Linked DNA regions of Homo sapiens. The protein of the gene in region 1 purifies or fractionates together with the protein of each later gene. This does not show direct contact. Each region holds a gene or a part of one and is shown in the gene's direction. Other genes may lie near its edges. The genes, in order: NAT16, RBM12 and METTL2B.

Region 1 (7,108 bases):
CCCCCTGGCCTGGAAGCCAAGGAAACTTAACTTTTAGCCTGGCTCTGCCCAGACTGAGTCACCTCGGGCAAGGCTCTTAATCTCCTTGATTATGAAATGAATGGGTTGAACCTGATGGTCTCTAATGGCCCCAGCAGAGGATCTAAATCCTCTGAGCCTGGCTTCCTCCTCTCTGATAATTCTGGCTCCATATCCAGGTAATCTCCAGGTGTTGGAATCAGATGAGAAAGAATCAGAAAACAAAGAGGGAGATAGAACTCTTGTCTTGAAGCTTGGTTTGTATAGCAAGCATACCGCGTTTAGGCAAGCTCTGTTTATGGCTTGGAAGTGCAAACCACTCCTTGGTCCCACTGCTGGTCAACCTTCCCCAAACCTAGGTAAGACTTTTGTTAAAAAAAAAAATAAAAATTCCAGTTAAGTCAATAAGTCAATATCACCCCCACAGAATAGCTGGTCTGTGTGCCCTTGGGATGTTGGTTAATGAGGCTTAACGTAGGTTATCTGAGGTGAGCATTATCATTGGCTGAAAGAGAGAGGGGGGATTTGATTGGTTGATTTGGCTGATCTGGAAGAGACAGGCCCAGAAATAGAAGTTGCTGGGACTTGGATAGGGGGCTTTCTCTTTCATTTTGGTGGAGCTCCGACAGAACACTTTTCAAACAATTCCTAGTCCTGGAGTGGACAGAGCCCAAGTCTCCCTATGGGGAAGAGGGGCAGAAGGAAGGAAAGGGGCGGGGGCGGGGGGCATTGATTGGCTTAGAAAGAATGGTTTGACATTTTCTTCTTCTTTTTTTTTTTTTTTCTTGAGACAGAGTCTCACTCTGTTGCCCAGGCTGGAGTGCAGTGGCTCAACCTCGGCTCAGGCTCACTACAACCTCTACCTCCCGGGTTCAAGTGACTTTTGTGCCTCAGCCTCCCTAGTAGCTGGGATTACAGGTGTCCACCACCATGCTTGGCTAATTTTTGTATTTTTGGTAGAGATGGGGTTTCATCACGCTGGCCAGGCTGGTCTCGAACTCCTGACCTCAGGTGATCTACCCGCCTCGGCTGAGCCGCCATGCTAGGCTGGCTTGACATTTTCTAGTGGAGCTATCTATCTTGTTTATATTTGAATGTGTATGTCAAGAGGTGGAGGTGGGGGGACAGGGAACTGGGGCAGCAATATGGAGGATATTTGGGGTCTACACCCTCCCCCTTGGCCCTGGCTGGGATTGTAGCTGGTAGTGGCAGGAAATGGGGTGAGGGTGAGCCCTCCACTGTTCTCTGGGAACTTTCTTGTGGACAGAGGGGTGACAGTGGGAGTTTCTTTCTCATGTTGTCCTTGCAGAGGTCTTAGAGAGGTGATGGGATCCTTGAAGGAGTGTGCCTCTTTTTTTTTTTTTTTGACACAGGTTCTCTCTCTGTCACACAGGCTGGAGTGCGGTGGTGTGATCCCGGCTCACTGCAACCTTTGTCTCCTTGGCTCAAACGATCCTCCCACTTCAGCCTCAGAGCAGCTGGGACTACAGGCCCACTGCACCACCATGCCTGGCTAATTTTTTTTATAGACAGAGTCTCACTATATTGCCCAGGCTGTTCTTAAACTCCATGACTCAACCAGTCCACCTGCCTTGGCCTCCCAAAGTGCTGGGAGTACAGGCATGAGTTTCCGTGTCCAGCCTTCTTCTTCTTTTTTTTTTTTAAAACTACCCCCAAGTGCCTTTTTTCTTTTGCCTGGGTCCCTGGATCTGGGGCTGGTCTATGGGGATCTCACAGGGTTCTAAGTTTCTGACTGTTAGGGAGCATCCCATAAGAGTGGGGTGGGTAGAGCTGAGATTTCTGAAAGCTGGTGGGAAGAGGGAGGGAGCTGGGAGACCTCCACTCCCAGGGTCTGTGTGGACAGCAGAAAAGAAAGGGTGTGGGCCAGGTAGAGTGGCTCACACCTGTAATCCCAGCACTTTGGGAGTCCAAGGTAGGAGGATCTCGAACCCAGGAGTTCGAGACCAGCCTGGGCAAAGTAGTGAGATCCCTATCTGTATTAAAAAAAAAATAAGAAGAAGAAATGAAGAAAGGGGCCAATGTGGTGGCTCACACCTGTAATCCCAGCACTTTGGGAAGCTGAGGTAGGAGGATCGCCTGAAGTCAGGAATTCAAGATCAGCCTGGACAACATGGTGAAGCTCCGTCTCTACTAAAAATACAAAAATTAGCCAGGCATGGTGGCACGTACCTGTAGTCCCAGCAACTCAGGAGGTGAAGGCAGGAGAATAGTTTGAAGCGGGGAGGCAGAGGTTGCAGCGAGCCGAGATCGCGCCACTGCACTCCAGCCTGGGCGGCAGAACGAGACTCCGTCTCAAAAAATAAATAAATAAATAAGTAAATAAGTAAATAAATAAAAGAAAAGAAAAAGAAAGGCTATTTGTGTAGGAAGGGGCATTAGGACCGTTTGTGTGCAGGGGCCCAGATGTGGAAACAAAGGGGCTGATCCAGGTGCTGAATTCTCTTTTTTTCTGCAGGGTCATGAAGCTGGAAGCCAGCTGTGGCACAGCCACCTCAGAGGTCCCTAAGCCGGAAAAGAAGACTGCCCGAGATGCAGAGCCAAGCTCTGAAACCCGGCCACAGGAGGTGGAGGCCGAGCCCAGGTCGGGATCGGGGCCTGAGGCTGAGGCCGAGCCATTGGACTTCGTGGTGGCCACGGAACGGGAGTTTGAGGAAGTGCTGGCCATCTCGGGGGGCATCTACGGCGGCCTGGACTACCTTCCTAGCCGCTACCACAGCTGGCTCCGGGACCCCGACCGCACGGTGGTGCTGGCCAAGCGCAACGGAGGCGTGGTGAGCCCGGGGGCACGGCCCAGGTGACATGGGGTGAAGCCACCTGCGGGTGCGTGGATCTTAGGAAGAGGAGGATGAGAGCTTCTCCCCAGCCTTCCTCTGGAGGCTGCGGAAATAGAGCCTGCTTTGGGACCAAAGTGCAGGGCGTGCAGTGCGGATCCAGGGGCTATGTCAGTGAGGGTGGGGTGGAGGACTCCTAAAGCAGAGGAACCAGAGGGACAGGTGAGCGTTTGAAAGTTCGAGGATCCACCGGAGGAATTTCTGGGGGTAAAAGCAAAGGAGGTGGGGAGCAGGAGAGAGAGGGTAGGCTAGGGGTGGGAGCAGGAAGAGCTTAGATTTGGGCTGGGGGAGGAGCTAAGAGGAAGTGGGGCGTGGCAAACTCCCGGGGGAGGAGCCAAGGAAGGGGCGTGGTGAGCGGTCCGGAACTTGACACACTCGGAGCTGGAGCATCTCAAGAGGTGGAAGGGGCCGGGCGCGTCGGCTAACTCCTGTAACCCCAGCTCTTTGGGAGGCCGAGGCAGGAGGATCACTTGAGGCTAGGAGTTCCAGACCAGCCTGGGCAACATGCGAGACCCCTGTCTCCAAAAAATAAAAATAAATAAAAAGCCGAGAGTAGGGGTGCGTGCCTGTTGTCCCAGCTACTAGGAAGTCTTGGGGGTGTAGGGGATCGCTTGAGCCCAGGAGTTTGAGGCTGCAGTGAGCTGTGATAGCACCACTGCGCTCCAGCCTGGGTGAGGAGACCCTGTCCTAAATTTAAAATAAATAAAAATAAAAAGGTGGACGAAGCCCCGGCGAATGACTGTTCTGCCGGCTCTGTAATCTGAGGCCCAAGTGCCGTGCTACCCCAGGCCTGGCCTGGTGCCCGGGTGGTGACGCGGAGTGCTCAGCGTGTGGGAAGAGGAGAGCCCAGTGAACCGACAGCCCTGGCAGGGGCGCAGGCGGGGAGGGCCCCGCGCTAACGGCCTCGGTCCGCAGATCGCGCTGGAGTCGGTGAACGTGATCGACGCCGGGGAGACGGTGCTGGTGGAGGGGCTGCGCGTGGCGCCCTGGGAGCGCGGGAAGGGCGTGGCCGGGCTGCTGCAGCGCTTCTGCTCGCAGCTGGTCAAGAGACAGCACCCGGGGGTCAAGGTGGCACGGCTCACCCGGGACGACCAGCTGGGCCCCCGGGAGCTGAAGAAATACCGCCTAATCACCAAGCAGGTGAGAAGGACAGGGAGCTCGGATGGCTGGGCCTCTCTGCTGGGGCATATGGGGAGACCCTCCCCACCCCCAGCAGAACACGGGCTTGCTCTCTCTCTGGGCTTTACCGAGTGGCGCGGCCCATGAGCCTTGCCCTGGGACTCCCAGTCCTTACCAGACCCTTTGACCCAGGGGAAGTCAAACTCCCGACTCCCAGCCTGAAACCCTAGTCCTTACTTCCCAACTTCGGGGACCCTGCCTCCCCTAGGATCCTGCCTCTGTTCAGGGCCCCAAGCCATCTCCTCTGAGCCTTTGTCCTCCCTCTGCTCCTCCCAATCCTACTGACTGATCGGCCTCCCTGGCTTTCACGTCCCTGGAGACCCGGGGACCCGTACCCTCAGTTCCCTGGCTACTCCATACTGATCCCACCTCTTCTTGGGGATCCACGTACTGGGAGCCCGTGCCCCTGGTCCCTGTCTGGTACCCTTGAAACCCAGGCTTTCCCATACCCCACTCGGCCCGGAGCCCTCACGGTCGCTCCTCCAGAGGGACCCAGGTGGGAGCCCGTGGGCGTGAACGTGGGAGTGAAGATGCCTGCCGAGAGGCGCCGGGCTCGCCAGCCCTGCTGCGCCCCCCCTCCCCGCGCTCACTCGTGCCCCCCGCAGGGCATCCTTTTGGTCCGATTCAACGCGTCCGCGCTGCTGGCCGGGCTGGGCGCGCGGCTGGCGGCGCTGCGGACCTCTGGCACCTTCTCGCCGCTGCCCACCGAGGCCGTGTCCGAGGCAGGCGGCGACGTGGCACGCCTCCTGCTGTCACCCTCCGTGCAGCGCGACGTGCTTCCAGGCGGGACCATCATCCAGGACTGGCAGCCCTACCGGCCTAGCGAAAGCAACCTGCGCCTGCTGGCGGCCAAGGGCCTGGAGTGGCGCGTGGACAGCCGCGCGCGCCCGCGCGTGCTCACGCTGTGCACGCGCCCCTTCCCCATCCCGCACGGAGGGGACGGCACTTGGCGCTATCTCAACATCGACGCCTTCGGTAGCGACGGCGCGCAGGTGCAGAGCCAGCTGCTGTGGCACCTGCAGCGCCAGGCCCCGCGCCTCGTTGGCCTCAACGTCATGTGCCAGCTCTTCCTGGAGCCCCAGCTGTGGTCACAGCTGGCTGACTTCTGCCAGGTCGGGCTGGGACTGGAGCTGGTGAAGGGTTATACTGAACAGTACCTGCTGGAGGCCGACATCTGAGGCCTCTCCTCTGGCGGGGAGGGGGAAAAAGACCCGCCCCCTTCCGCAGTTTCCCCAGCCAGCCTCTTTCCTGCCATTTCCGACGCTGCGTCTCCTGGGAAGTCCCCTCTGACTCCTGCCCTCCTGCCCTTACCGGCGCAGGTCCCCCCACTCTGTCCCTTTTGCCCTTACTATCTTGCCTCTAGCTCCCCCAAACACCATTGCCCACTCCCTGACCTGAACTTGCGGACTATTAGGTGGGGGCTGGGGGTGGGGGCCTTGAGCTGCTGTTATCCACCCTCTGTTTTTCCAAAGAACTGGTCCCCGCACAGGCTTCAGAGTCCTTCCTTCCCTCTCCATCACCTCACCCGGGGCGTGAACTCCCCCTTTCCTGGCTTCTCCCTTCTGCCCCCTCGTGGGTGGAAGAACTCAGGAGTGTGTGGGATGCCCAGCCTCGTTCCCGAGCGCAGCCGCCCAATCCGCGTTTCTTTTCTTCCTTCTGCCCTTTCTAAAGCCCTAAAAACTGGTCCTGCATTGCCCTCCACACCCCAATCCCCTCCCCCTGCTCAAGCTTCTGGTGCCAGAGATCAGTGCCCTCTCCCCACTTCTCTCTAGCCCCTCATCCTCATCCTCGCTGGATCTCTACGACGCTTAACACCGCAGTGCCCATTTTTCTGTCCCTGTTTTCCTTCCCATCACCAGCCCAGTGTGCAATCCAGAGAGAGAGAGAGTGATACTGTAAAATGAAATGTATTTAGAATGCTCCCCCATTTGGGTCCTTGTTCATCTGGTGATGCACTTTCTGAGCCTGCCTCTCTCACTGGGGTTTCCTCCTGCTTTGCACAACTTTGCTATTTCGCAGGCTCCCCCGTGCCCCAGCTCACCCGAGCCGGGCGGGGTGGTGGTGGTGGTGGTGGTGTGTGTGTGGTGTGGTTCTAGCTGAAGAGTTTGGTACAGTGGAGGGCGGGTCCCTCAGCCTGGCATAGGGGCTGTCTCCTGGTTCCAACCAGGCCGCCTTCTAGTGCAACTGGAATTCCCACCTCCTGGTATTTCTGGACACCACTCCCTTTCTCTGGATCATTTATGCTTTTAGAACTTTGAGAGTCTTCTATTTAATTGCAAGTAGTAACAGCTGCATCTGCACAGCGCTGTCTCCAATACTGGTTCCCCACATCAAAGGCAGAGGGAGAAAACAGAAGGCTGGGAAAGATCAAAGTGACTTCTAAGTCATTCAAAGTAGCTAGGAGCCTCCCAGCGAATAGAACCCGGGTGTCCCAAGCCTAGAGCATGACCTAGAACTTCACTCTGTGGGATGATGTTAGCTTGAACTTCTTGTTGGGCAATGCGTAGGTGCTAGGAGAATGTTGACAGTGAGTTTGGGGTTCGCTGGGATGGGATCCGAGATGTGGGCAGAGGTGGACACCAGCAGGTGGAAGAATGTGGACAAGGTGGGGGGTAGGGGCAGCCGCCGCTTCGCCACTTTCCGCAGCTCTGGTTTTGCTACTGTGCTGCTCTCCTTGGGTGCATCCTGTGCCTGGCCACGCTGCCACCCTCCTTGTCACGGTGACCACGATTGTATGACAATAAAATGGACCTTTTGGCCACCCTCTGTGTCTGTTTCACTTCCCAATGGGGAGAAATGAGACACATTATCTTCCCCTTTCCCCAGCAGCCTGTATCAGAGAGGATCTCTAAGCCCTGTGGCAATGGGGCTAATGACTTCCCGGGGAGAGGGGGGAGGTGGAGAGGGGTTCTGAGGAGGGCTGCTGGCTGTGCGCCCCTACCCCACCCCTGCCAAGCGGAGGAAAGAAGCCGCTGCTCAGGACCGAGGTGGGCAGCAGCACGGCCTCCTGACTCGCCCTGGGCCTCGCTTTTCCCTGGACCTGGGAGTCGGCTGCTACC
Region 2 (7,108 bases), on another chromosome or scaffold:
TTGTGCCCGTTGTGATTGGTTCTCTGTTGCTAATCTCTGAGGTGAACATTTGAGAGTTTGTTTCTTTTGGATCTGAAGAACCTAGCTCTGCTGTACCCTGGTTCTTGTTGATTAAAGAGTGATAACTGAACAAAGTTAAAGTTCACTTTTGGATGTTTACTACCAGATGAAGAGTGAAAATAGTCGTTTTAGTTTGTGCCTTGACTTCTTGATGAAGAGATTTGTTGTCAGACATTTTTTTCTGAAATTCCAAGTGATTAGAATGGCTAGTAAATACGAAAGTCTGTCTTGCCATAATATGTTAAATTTTTGTAGCAGATACTTGTGATTTGTGCATGCATCCGGTATTTTGTCAAGTTGAAGCAAGCCTTTATGTTAGGACTAATTCCTGATAATATGAATGGAAAACATACTAAAGCCAGCTTCTTGTTTTAGATCTTCTGAAGTATATCAGTGGCTTTAATGACAAATCAGGCCCATTTTCTCCTTTCCTATCATTATGCTGTATGTATAGATAGAATATGTATTTTAGATGTTTTATTGTTTAGTTATTATTTTAGTCTTATCCTTCTAAAGTTCAGCAAAGCTTTAGGTAAATGGCGTGGATTTTTGAAATCCTGCATTCAGTCGCTAGCTGACATTTAGAATACAGGAATAGTAGTTTCCTGGAAAACAGTGACACTTATGTTAAATTCTTGTGGTTTTTACAAAGTGAGGTGTCAACACAGAAGTATTTCAGTTCTATTTCCATTTACCTTTCCCTTTTGAAGAGGTATAATACCAAGGGTTGTGAAGTTCTGACTTGTAGCATCAACTTTCTGCATGGTTTTCCTTGGTATGGGGTGGGGTGGGTATTCCTCTTTGCTGAAATAGAAGAGAATCATAAATTTCTATCTGGATTGATTTTGTGCTTTAAGTTGTACACATAAAACTTGAACTAGGCATTTGTCAAATTCAGCTGGGCCTTTCAGCCTTGCCTTGTGGAATGAGAAATATCTTCCTTTTAAAGGTAATTTCTGGTAACCTTTTAGAAATTTTTGAGAGTAGACCTGGTGAGTTCCCTTTGAGCTTAACTGGCTGACCCCAGATATGTCCTTCTCAAGATAGACATACGGTATCTTTTGAGTTTGCAAGGGAAGAGGCTGAGAGGAACCTTCTTACCTTATATTCAGGCATATGCCCTGGCCCCATACCTGACCTTTTGAATTGGAATCTCCAGTAGGGATCAGATGTTTATTACAAGTTCTAGAAACTAGAAAGTTACCCTGTTATGTGGCTGCTGGAGTCAAACCTGTACATAAATATTACAGTACTTCATGCTCTTGCTCATTGCTTTACTTGAAGCAGGTTTTTTTCTGTTTCACATTTTCCTTTGTGACCTGTTAAACTACTAGATATGGCTTTCAAATGAAGAATTTTTAAACTCCTTAGACTTAGTTAGGCTAGGCCAGGCGTGGTGGCTCACACCTGTAATCTCAGCACTTTGGGAGGCTGAGGCGGGTGGATCACTTGAGGTGAGGAGTTAAGAGACCAGCCTGGGTAACATAATGAAACCCCTGTCTCTACTAAAAATACAAAAATAAGCTGCGGGTGGTGGCGCAAGCCTGTAGTCAGTCCCAGCTACTCCAGAGGCTGAGGCATGAGAATAGCTTGAACCCAGGGAGGCGGAGGTTGCAATGAGCCTAATGAGCCTAGATCGCGCCACTGCACTCTAGCCTGGGCGACAGAGCGATACCCTGTCTCAAAAAAAGAAAAAAAAAAGAGGCTAGATTTCTACAACATGTAAAAGATTAATACAATGCTCTAGACTTTTGATTGTGTTGATTACATATTTGCATAGCTTTTTGTGGTAAAACCATCTCACTATTCTTTAGCAACTTGAGTAGTTGACTAGACGATGAATAGTTTGTCCTTTAGAAAATCACACAGATTTTTGAAATATGTTTTACTTTTTGGCGATGAATATTAAGGTCATTAGTTGTATTTTGGTCTTGGAAGATACTAATTTAAGATGAGCATCATTTGGAAAAGTAGTCGTAGGTAATCTTAATACTGAACAGTGGCAAATTTCTTCTCTCTCCGAATTAAAACATGACCTTTGAAAAAAAATAAAAAGCAAAAAATGACCTTTGAATATAGTTGTCTAGACATTTGGTCATATATGCTTGTGACTTGTTAATAACCTCACCAGTTTGGAAGAAATGACAGTGAAAGATGAGTGACCTGTTTTTATTTTGGGATATACTCTTAATATGTCAGGCATTTTTAGGGTGTTTTTAAATTTTATTTTATTTTATTTATTTAAATTTTACAAGTTTTTGAGAACTGTTGTGATGTCAGAGGAAAAAACACTTTCCCTTAATATTTTGTTAATATTTTGAGCTCCAGTGGAATTAGTCCTTATAGCAAGAACTCATACTTCATTTGTTTTGTGATGTTGGATGCTATTTTGTGCAAAATAAAATATATTGAAAGAATAATTGCAGTAATTTCCATGAGTACCCTTGAATTGCTATCTTAAGTTGTCCAAGAATTGTTATTGTGCGAACTTGTGCCTTTTCATCACAAATTTGGTGAGAACCTGGGGAAATAGACTTGTGTTACGGAGTTTTCTGGACTGGTTTAATTATAAAGTGATCAAAGCAATTAGCTGTGAAGCTGAGCTTTATGACTGTTTTAATTTTCAGTGGATTCGTTATTGGGCTAAGTTAATGACACTCTTGTAAATATATAATTATTTTGAGATACTCAAATTTGAAAGCAATACCAACTAAAAAGCATGTGTGGGATTTTGTTACGGTGTCTTTCTTTTTTTTTTTTTTTTTGATATGCATTCTAATGAAGTACTCTGGTGGTTTCAGACTCGCCTTCGTAATGTACAGTGTGGCCTGTGCGTGTTGTTTTGTGTTTCCTGCATTGATTTTTGCCTCCGTTTATTCTCTATTGCAGTCTAAAAGTTGGTTTTAATTGGTTGCCCACAGGATTGACTTGGCCTCTACTTCTTGTTAAGGAAATTCATCTCTTGTTTTATCAGGTAAGAGATTTTGAATAGAGAGTTCGTTTTTATACAAAATAAAATGAGATAGCTTATTAAGAAATATGAAAATATATGTAGCAACTATATTGTGTGTGTGTGTGTGTGTGTGTGTGTGTGTGTGTGTTTTTGTTTGCTTGTTTTTTGTTTTGAGACGGAGTCTTGCTCAGTTGCCCAGGCTAGACTCTGTTGCCCAGGCTGGAGTGCAGTGGTGCCATCTCGGCTCACTGCAACCTCCGCCTCCCGGGTTCAAGCACTTCTCTGCCTCAGCCTCCCGAATAGCTGGGATTACAGGCGCCTGCCACCATACCCGGCTAATTTTTTTGTATTTTTAGTAGAGATGGGGTTTTATCCTCTTGGCCAGGCTGGTCTTGAACTCCTGACCTTGTGATCCACCTGCCTTAGCCTCCCAAAGTGCTGGGATTACAGGCATGAGCCGCCACCCAGGCCGGTGTGGTTTTTTACAAGTTTATCTGAGGGATAGGGGTGGGGTAGATGGGTGCTTTGAACAGTTGTTCCTTTGGGGGTCAATTTCATTTATATGGATCTATTTATCTTGTGATTTTCCTGATAGGCAGTAAGTTTTATTCCTTAGTAGCATTTTAGACTAATTACAAATACAGATGCTTGTTATTGATATGTTTATTTATATTTCCTAAGAGTTTAAGTATAGATAATGGGTCACATGTTTTAGAGTACAAATTTTAGACTTTAAATGGAACCTTAGCAAGTGGAATCTAACCCTCTTGTTTAAGTAACTAAGATAGGCCCAAGTTAGGTTGAAATGACTTAGCTGTCAAACAGTTACTTAGTAACAGAAAAGCAGATACTTTTTTAAATTTTTTTTTAAATTTTTATTTGTTTTATTTATTTATTTCTTTTTGAGACAGAGTTTCGCTCTTGTTGCCCAGGCTGGAGTGCAGTGGCGTGATCTCTGCCTCCCGGGTTCAAGTGATTCTTCTGCCTCAGCCTCCCTAGTAGCTGGGATTACAGGCACCTGCCACCATGCCCAGCTAATTTTTTGTGTTTTTAGTAGAGACGGGGTTTCACCTTGTTGGCCAGGCTGGTCTTGAACTCCTGACCTCGGGTGATCCACCCACCTCATCCTCCCAAAGTGCTGGGGTTACAGGTGTGAGCCACCGCACCTGGCTGCGGATATTATTTCATATTTTTTGGAAGCTAGAAACAATTTTTCTCATCAGATGGCTTTATGAATAAATCTTGTATTCCACTTTGGTTTAATATTCAGCCCTTTCCAGCTGGTAATCTGAGGCAGATTTTCAATAGCATATTCTCATGTGTACCTTGTACAAACTTTCAGTAAATCCCTGCTCTTAACAGAAAATGGCTTGAAGACTTAACTGTGTATGTCACTTTAGCCCTGTGTTTAATTTTTGTGTTCTTGGGACTATATCAAGTTTCTGTTTGATTGTCCCAGTGCAAACTAGTCTCTCTCTCTCTCTCAAGTTGTTTTGAGTACCTGGATTGCCCATGATGTTTCCCCTATACAAAGTGATTAACCGTTTTTTGAAGTTGAACAGGAAATGCTATCACATTTTGCATACAGCCACATATTCTAGATTGAGCAAGGAATGTGAATTTGATTTAATGACTTGGAAACTGCTTGATGAACCTCCTTATAGGCTGCTAAATAGTAAATGAGAAAAGAGACTGTTGGTGTGATGTTTTTTAGCGTTAATTTTTCTTGTTGACTCTTGAAGTTTGTAAATGAAAAGCTTCCCCACACTTCCCAAATTTCTAGTGCTTTATAATGGCCTCACAAAAAGCATTTTCTGTTTGCTAGTCCATTTTTCTGGATTAAATTTGAAGGTGGCTTTTTATTTTTGTGTATGTGTCTGTGAGAAAACTGTCAAAGCCAAGCAGTTTGTTTCTTGTTTGTATACGGCAGTTGTAATATTGAGATATAATTACAGATTTTGTTGCATTAGTATTTATATAATATTTGACAATGAAGTTACAGAATTCTTAGAGCTTATAGTAGAAAATCTTGCCCCTTCTAATATTCTTGAGAAGTGATAAAACCAAATCTCTTCATTAATTTATAACCTTTCTGAGGGTCATGAGCTGATTTTATGGGCTTATATTTAAAAGTTGACTTTTCAGGTGGGGCGCAGTGGCTCACGCCTGTAATCCCAGCACTTTGGAAGACTGAGGAGGGTGGATCACCTGAGGTCAGGTGAAATCCCATCTCTCCTAAATACAAACACTTAGCCAGGCATGGTGGCGCATGCCTGTAATCCCAGCTACTTGGGAGGCTGAGGCAGGAGAATTACTTGAACCTGGGAGGTGGAGGTTGCCGTGAACCGAGATCGTGCCGTTGCACTGCAGCCTGGGCTACAAGAGTGAAACTCTGTCTCAAAATAAATAAATAAATAAAAGTTGACTTTTCAGATGGGTTGGAAAACACCCTATGTTATTGACCACCTTAATTTCAAAGTAGTATGTTTCCCAGGCCCAATAATTCGGTTTGTGTCACTTTCCAAAGGGCTGCCCTTGAATTTGCTCTTAGAAGCCTTTGGAACTGAAATACTGAAATTTGAGGGGAACATTTCTTTTTTGATTATGTCAAAACAGGCATGATCTAAGGAGATCACAGAGATCCTGTAGGAGTTGTGTAGGTCCAAGACTGTAACAACCACTGAGTAATTCACACTCTGGTTCTAAAACAAAAACAAAAAATATTTTTATTGTCAGCCCTCTCCTAGGGGAAAATAATACTTTAAAAAATTTTATTAAATAGAGGATTTGGTTATGAGTCATTGGACCTGAGTTTTAATTAAAATAGTCACAGTGAATGGGACTATAACCAGGTTCTACTTTTGGGGGTAATGAATCAAGGTAACTCAGATTTTAGCTGTCCTATTCAGTAGTTCTTTTGGCTTCTTAGTATGTCTTAACCTTGTTTATAATAAATAATTCCATATGTAGTTTTTTGTAATGTACAAGGCAGATTGAAAAGTTTTAGGATGAATAAAATAATGGAACCAGTTCTCATTTAAGACTTGAATCTACTTTTAGTCTTAAGTATTATTTACAATTCATTAGTATTCTAGTTTTTTGCTTCTGTTGGATGGATTTTGAGACTGAGCTCTATAAAATCACACTCTTGATAATTCTATGAAATTATCAAGTATATAGGGAAGATGCTAAGCCAGTTTTAAATACTAACTTCTATATATTCTTTGCATGTTTTTTCCCTATAGATTGTTAAACTTTGTTTCCTGATTTGACTTAGACATTTCTTTTAAATCTTACTGAATGATTAGTGGTCTGAATGATGTATATGTATTTTACTGTCCTACAGTTGTTTTTTCTTGAACTTTTTGAGTCTTGGGACTGAACTGTTTCCAAAATTAATGCCTTCTGGAAGTTGAAATTGTCTACGTTTTACATTGTAAATGGCACGTAATGTTCAGTTTTTAGAATATCTAAATTAAAGACATTGCCTGTGATAGCTTGAGGGAATATTTGAGGGCCTAATATGGTAGCTGGTCATTCTTGTAGCTAAAAACTTGGTGTGATAAACAGGAGTCTGACCTGGCCGTTGCCTTTTCTCATCTGCAGGTGTGTGTGGTTTCAGCGCAGCATGGCTGTGGTCATCCGTTTGCAAGGTCTCCCAATTGTGGCGGGGACCATGGACATTCGCCACTTCTTCTCTGGATTGACCATTCCTGATGGGGGCGTGCATATTGTAGGGGGTGAACTGGGTGAGGCTTTCATCGTTTTTGCCACTGATGAAGATGCAAGGCTTGGTATGATGCGCACAGGTGGTACAATTAAAGGGTCAAAAGTAACACTATTGTTGAGTAGTAAGACGGAAATGCAGAATATGATTGAACTGAGTCGTAGGCGTTTTGAAACTGCCAACTTAGATATACCACCAGCAAATGCCAGTAGATCAGGACCACCACCTAGCTCAGGAATGAGTAGCAGGGTAAACTTGCCCACAACAGTATCCAACTTTAATAATCCATCACCCAGTGTAGTTACTGCCACCACTTCTGTTCATGAAAGCAACAAAAACATACAGACATTTTCCACAGCCAGCGTAGG
Region 3 (6,941 bases), about 27 Mb from region 1:
TGGGTTTTCTTGTTGTTGTTGTTGTTGTTTGAGATGGAGTCTTGCTCTGTTGCCAGGCTGGCCTGCAGTGGCACGATCTAAGCCCACTGCAACCTCCGACTCCTGAGTTCAAGCGATTCTCCTGCCTCAGCCTCCCGAGTAGCTGGGATTACAGGCACCCACCACCGTGCCCGGCTAATTTTATTTATTTATCATTTATTTATTTATTATTTGTGTGTGTGTGTGTGAGGAGTCTCGCTCTGTCGCCCAAGCTGAAGTGCAGTGACACAGTCTCGGCTCACTACAACCTCCAACACCCAGGTTCAAGTGATTCTCCTGCCTCAGCCTCCTAAGTAGCTGGGACTACAGGCGCGTGCCACCACGCCTGGCTAATTTTTTGTATTTTAGTAGAGATGGGGTTTCACCATGTTGGCCAGGATGGTCTCGATCTCCTGACCTCGTGATCCGCCCACCTCGGCCTCCCAAAGTGCTGGGATTACAGGCGTGAGCCACCACACCCAGCCTAATTTTTGTATTTTTAGTAGAGATGGGGGTTTCACCATCTTGGTCTGGCTGGTCTCGAACTCCTGACCTCGTGATCCACCCGCCTTGGTCTCCCAAAGTGCTGGGATTACAGGTGTGAGCCACCGTGCCCGGCCAGATGAATGTAATTGTTTAAAAAAAAAAGCACAAAGCATTTTGTTCTGAAACTATTTTAATGTAAAGTCACTTACATAACTAAATTAGAAAGCACTAGGATGATATAAGCCAAAGCATTAATGAGTCAAATTAATGGTGGGAAGAAGTATTTTCTTTTGTTTTATCGATATCTTCTAAACGTTCTATAATAAAAAATTTATTTTGCAATAAGAAAACACAGGCCAGGTGCAGTGGCTCATGTCTGTAATCCCAGCACTTGGGGAGGCCGAGGCAGAAGGATTGCTCAAGACCAGGAGTTCGAGGCCAGCCTGGGCAACATGGCAAAACACTGTCTCCACAAAAAATGCAAAAATTATCCGGGTATGGTGGCACAAACCTCTAGTCCCAGCTTCTCTGTTGGCTGATGTGGGAGAATCACTTGAGCCTGGGAGGCAGAGGTTGCAGTGAGCTGTGATCGTGCCACTGTACTCCAGCCTGCGTGACAGAGTGATGCCCTATCTCAAAGAAAAAAAGGAGAAGAAAGGCCGGGTGGGGTGGCTAATGCCTGTAATCCCAGCACTTTGGGAGGCTGAGGCAGGCGGATCATTTGAGGTCAGGAGTTCAAGACCAGCCTGGCCAACATTGTGAAACCCGTCTCTACTAAAATACAAAAATTAGTCGGGTGTGGTGGCGGTGGCCTGTAATCTCAGCTACTCTGGAGGCTGAAGCAGGAGACTGGCTTGAGCCCGGGAGGTGGAGCTTGCAGTGAACCGAGATCATGCCACTGCACTCCAGCCTGGGCGACAGAGCAAGACTTCGTCTCAAAAAACAAAAACCAAAAAACAAAAAAAAAACAAAAAAAACAATTAACTACCCTTGTCCTTGGCTAACAACCTAAGGCAATAATCCAGAATGAGAGTTTTTAACCTTTACAAGCATTAAACCCATGCCACCCACTGAGCTATAAGAGTTCTCCTTACTTACCACCAGAGGGACCCTTAGTTCCTCTGAAACGTGGCGTTTCTGAAGCTACAATCCAGTATAAAGTCTGACACCAGAGAACTCACAGCCATGTCAAACTTATGCAAAATTATTTTAGGTGCTTCGAAAAATAGGTTTTACAGGCCAATCAAATATAATTGTATAAAATTAAGTTTAGGCCGGGCGCGGTGGCTCACTCCTGTAATCCCAGCACTTTGGGAGGCCAAGGTGGGCGGATCATGAGGTCAGGAGATTGAGACCATCCTGGCCAACATGGTGAAAACCCATCTCTACTAAAAATACAAAAAATTAGCCGGGCATGGTGGCGGGTGCCTGTAGTCCCAGCTACTCGGGAGGCTGAGGCAGGAGAATGGCGTGAACCCGGGAAGTAGGGAGCTTGCAGTGAGCCGAGATCACGCCACTACACTCCAGCCTGGGAGACAGTGCGAGACTCCGTCTCAAAAATAAATAAATAAATAAATAAATAAAAATAAAAAATAAAATTAAGTTTAGGATACTTTAGCACATTTCATAGAAAAAAGGCCAAAGCTGTTTGACATTTAAAATGTCTCCATTGGAACTAATATAGTAAATTCAAGTGAAGACAATGAGCTGTCTGCAAGAAAATATCCAGTGGGACTGTTGATTGGGAACACTAACAGCTTTTAGTGAGGGGAGAATAAAAGCCCACAGATGAGAAAACAAGATGCCAGAAATAAATGTAAATCAACCACCATATCTGCAAACAGCTGGCCTTGAGAAAAGATAAAAATTCCTTGTACTTGTTTCTGGGTATGGAGCTTGTGTTCAAAATGTTTCCAAAGACCACAAGAATGGCAAAAGCATATTGTCTTCAAATGAAGTACAACTTCTTTACTATCTTTTTGATTAACTTGTGTATTTTTCTTCCTGATTAGAGAGGCTTAGAGCTTGTTCCCATTTCTTTGGAGGAAAAGTATAGAATCATTCATTGCTCCCTGTAGTTTTACCTACAGAAAGAATTTACAATGGAATAAACAATTACTGGCTGGGCACGGTGGCTCACACCTGTAATCCCAACACTTTGGGAGACCGAGGTGGGCAGATCATTTGAGGTCAGGAGTTCAGGACCAGCCCAGGCAACATGGTGAAACCCCATCTCTACTAAAAATACAAAAATTAGCCGAGTGTGGTAGCGCGCACCTGTAATCCCGGCTACTCAGGAGGCTGAGGCAGGAGAATCACCTGAGCCCAGGACATGGAGGTTATAACGAGCTGAGATCCAGCTACTGCACTCCAGCCTGGGAAACAGAGCAAGACTCCGTCTCAAAAAAAAAAAAAAAAAAGTACTAATTACCAATGTGCTATGTCTAGCACTGCACTAACCCTTTCCTTTTTTAAAAAAATTCATCTTTCCCTTTATTCTGACATTATGACATTAAATAAAGTCCAAGAGATATTGGGCTGGTCCTTGTTTGGTCTCTGCCCTTTCCTTCTTTTCCAAGTGGTATTCATCATGCTTCTCTTGGAAGTCTTCTCAAATAACCTTATGTCTATAACATACTTTCTTCTAGATTCTTTTGAGAGTCTATTTGTATTAGATCTAGAAATAGAAATGTAAGGCTGAAATGTATTACTATGACAAACTGTATGTGTGTATTACAATCTTAATTGTGCTAATAAGGATAATTATAATAAATATAATATGGATGATTCAAAAAGGTTAGATGGTTATAATTAAAAAAAAATTGTCCTTGGATATTCCATTTGATTTGCTAAGCCTCGTGTTCTCTAATTTCATATATCCATCTCCCCCACCCCAACCAAAATATATATACACACTGTGTATACATATACACCCACACTATGAAGAGCTGACTATAGAAGCTGGAAATTGCCCTGTTTCTTTCCGCTGCTTGCTACCTTCTTCAGTTCTGGACATCGGCTCCGCAGTGGAACTAGGTAGCCTCAACTCTTATAATGATTCAAGATTATTCCTGTTTTACAACTTGAGGGAAGCTGGGGAACCTGTTAAGAGGATCCCAGCAATGAACTGGGCCTCAAGTGGAATGTCTCCCACTTTCTGCCTAACCTGCACGTCCATCAGCACCTCATCAATGAGATACGACTCCTCCGGGGAGAATTTCCCCCTGCCTGGTCCCCTTCCCTAGAGAGCCCTTCGCCAACCCTGGGAAAGCCCCAAACGACAGCTCCCGAGCGCCACCCGGACCAGACTCCAGGACCGCCCTGTCCCGCCACCCTTTTTCCCGCCCAGACTCCACGTCTTCTGAAAGAGGGCGTGGCCCGCAGGAAGTTCTCGCGTTACGGAAAGTGAAGTGTTTCCGGCTCCGGTGTCATGGCCGGCTCCTACCCTGAAGGTGCACCTGCAATCCTCGCCGATAAGAGGCAGCAGTTCGGAAGCCGGTTCCTGAGCGATCCGGCGCGCGTCTTCCACCACAATGCCTGGTAATCACCCTGCCCCCTCGCCCGGCCTGTCGCTGGCCGTCTGTCCCGCCGCCTCGGAGCATTCCGAAAAGCCCCTGACCGCCGGCCACGAGTCAAGCTGCCCTACCCGAGGCACTCTCCAAGGGGAGAGAAACTCCTAGGCCAGCGACTCACCCTGCTCGCAGCCAGGACGTGAAGCCCCTAAGCTGCCCGTTTGATTTTCTCAGGGACAATGTGGAGTGGTCGGAAGAGCAAGCCGCGGCGGCGGAGAGAAAAGTCCAGGAGAACAGTATCCAGCGGGTGTGCCAGGAGAAACAAGGTGCGCTTAAATGGGCTCTCGTTGGTATCAACAGCCAGCGTACTGCCGAACGCGCCCTCCCGGAGAGGCCAGGGAACCGCGGCCGCCCACATCCTTTATTCCTGGCCTGATGCGGATCTCAGGAGTAGAGCAGGACAGGGAGGGGATGAGCAAGGAGGGAAAAGGGCTGCATTGTAACAAAATCTTAAGTCGTAGAGGGTTTTTTTAATATATAGTTTTACTTTGGAGGAGGGTAATTTTGTCTTTAATTATGTTGAGTAGATCCACGTTGATATGGCTAGCCAATGACAACTGTGTGGTCACGCGATCATCTTAGAACCTGTACTTTTTACATGATTTGCATTTTCCATGAGGAGATGTTTCCATTGAAGCTTCATTTAAGTGATTAGATTCTAAATATTGTTGGGAGGGGGGCTAATGACTGGTGACTGTGTGTCTATTACTTGTGTGATGGTTATGAGAATTTAGGGCTTCAGTCAAGGAAAGGTGGATGCAGCAGAGTGGAGATAAGTCTGGCCAAAGAAAAGGAGGCCCCTGCTTGAGAGGTTGATGATTTCACTGCAAAATATCCCTAGATAGTAAAACTAGGACTGATTGTTCCAGACAATTGAAGATAGCACTACAAATTTAGTACCTGCTGAAAGAGTTCTGTACAACAAAAAGGTTCCAGTTACAAAACATTCACCCTGCATAGTCTGACAGCAACTAGATCAAAGCAAGTTAATAGTTAAAAGGGATTTTGAAAATCATGTGGTTCAATATTCTCTTTTTATAGTTAAAGACACTTGGACCACAGGACATTAAGTGCTTTTCCCAGAGGTAAGCAGTCAGTAGTAGCAGTAGTGGAACTAAAATCCTGTTTCTTAGGGAGTCTTGGTTGATTCAGCAGGTGAGTTGTGAGTTGTTAACACACTTCTTAGTGGATTCCAACTTCCATTGTCACCGTCCTGCTCAATTTGTTAGGTTTTTATTCTTTCTACTACACTAGTCAAGGCCCCCTGAACTGGCAAGAGCAGTAAACTGAAATCTGGGACTGTCATGATCACCTTAAAAACAGCCTTCATTTAAACTGTCCATACTTTTTTTTTTTTTTTTGGAGGCGGAGTCTCGCTCTGTCACCAGGCTGGAGTGCAGTGGCGCGATCTCAGCTCACTGCAATCTCCTCCTCCCTGGTTGAAGCGATTCCCCTGCCTCAGCCTCCCGAGTAGCTGGGACTACAGGTGTGCACCACCATGCCTGGCTAATTTTTTGTATTTTGGTACAGATGGGGTTTCACCATGCTGGCCAGGATGGTCTCAATCTCCTGACCTCGTGATCCGCCCATCTTAGCCTCCCAAAGTGCTGGGATTACAGGCATGCGCCACTGCACCTGGCTACTTCTAGGATTTTTTAATAGTTAAAAGTCATCTGGCTGGGCGCGATGACTCATGCCTGTAATCCCAGCACTTTGAGAGGCTGAGGCGGGTGGATCACGAGGTCAGGAGATTGAGACCATGCCTGGCTAACACGGTGAAACCCCGTCTGTACTAAAAAATAGAAAAAATTAGCCGGGCGTGGTCGTGGGCCTGTAGTCCCAGCTACTCAGTAGGATGAGGCAGGAGAATGGCATGAACCCGGGAGGTGGAGCTTGTGGTGAGCCAAGATTGCGCCCCTGCACTCCAGCCTGGGTGACAGAGCGAGACTCTGTCTCAAAAAGAAAAAAAAGTCATCCAAAGATGTAGGAGGACACTTGATAGATAGTAAGTTCTCTGGTTGATTGTTCAAACAGAATTTAGACTCCTATAATGACGGATGGGGCATTTGGGTATAATGCCAGATGGCAGGACTAAATGACCTCAGAAATGCCTTCAGTTCTGGGACTGTGGCTCTACCTGAGGATAATTTTAGTATTAAAGTGACATTTGGTAAAGCAGGATAATTGACGTTAGATATAAATAAAATATTTGAGAGCTGGTTCTTAAAATTTTTTCTTAAATATTTACAGTTGATTATGAGATCAATGCCCACAAATACTGGAATGACTTCTACAAAATCCACGAAAATGGGTTTTTCAAGGATAGACATTGGCTTTTTACCGAATTCCCTGAGCTGGCACCTAGCCAAAATCAAAATCATTTGAAGGATTGGTTCTTGGAGAACAAGAGTGAAGTATGTGAATGTAGAAACAATGAGGATGGACCTGGTTTAATAATGGAAGAACAGCACAAGTGTTCTTCGAAGAGCCTTGAACATAAAACACAGACACCTCCTGTGGAGGAGAATGTAACTCAGAAAATTAGTGACCTGGAAATTTGTGCTGATGAGTTTCCTGGATCCTCAGCCACCTACCGAATACTGGAGGTAACCTTTTATTGTCTTGGTAGTGGGATATGTGAAGCTATTATATTTGTGCACATGAGGTAGCATAGAGAGGCTGACAATAAAAGTAACTTCTATTGGATGATGCTGACTAGACTTGACCCTTATATTAGCCTGGAATCACCTCCATTTTTGAACTGATAAAATGCCCTCAGTGCAGACCAGATATCTGGTGGTCATCACAGACAAAGATCACACGGGAATAGCATGTCACTTCCAAAAATTGTATTAATAGCATCAT

The links.
Region 2: the proteins of NAT16 (region 1) and RBM12 purify together in Homo sapiens (affinity purification with mass spectrometry; 2 studies listed by BioGRID and IntAct, with this or other methods). This does not show direct contact.
Region 3: the proteins of NAT16 (region 1) and METTL2B purify together in Homo sapiens (affinity purification with mass spectrometry; 2 studies listed by BioGRID and IntAct, with this or other methods). This does not show direct contact.

Annotation. Positions count from the first base shown.
Region 1 is NC_000007.14:101,170,198-101,177,305, reverse strand, and holds the end of NAT16 (probable N-acetyltransferase 16), read left to right. Parts: intron 1-2,494; 5' UTR 2,495-2,498; coding exon 2,499-2,810; intron 2,811-3,785; coding exon 3,786-4,010; intron 4,011-4,654; coding exon 4,655-5,227; 3' UTR 5,228-6,810; downstream 6,811-7,108. UniProt on the Homo sapiens protein: Probable N-acetyltransferase. Shows only trace activity toward L-His and no N-acetyltransferase activity toward other amino acids. The physiological substrate of this enzyme is unknown.
Region 2 is NC_000020.11:35,654,856-35,661,963, reverse strand, and holds part of RBM12 (RNA-binding protein 12), read left to right. Parts: intron 1-2,949; 5' UTR 2,950-3,034; intron 3,035-6,619; 5' UTR 6,620-6,641; coding exon 6,642-7,108.
Region 3 is NC_000007.14:128,472,832-128,479,772, forward strand, and holds the start of METTL2B (tRNA N(3)-cytidine methyltransferase METTL2B), read left to right. Parts: upstream 1-3,916; 5' UTR 3,917-3,934; coding exon 3,935-4,044; intron 4,045-4,250; coding exon 4,251-4,342; intron 4,343-6,326; coding exon 6,327-6,682; intron 6,683-6,941. UniProt on the Homo sapiens protein: S-adenosyl-L-methionine-dependent methyltransferase that mediates N(3)-methylcytidine modification of residue 32 of the tRNA anticodon loop of tRNA(Thr)(UGU) and tRNA(Arg)(CCU).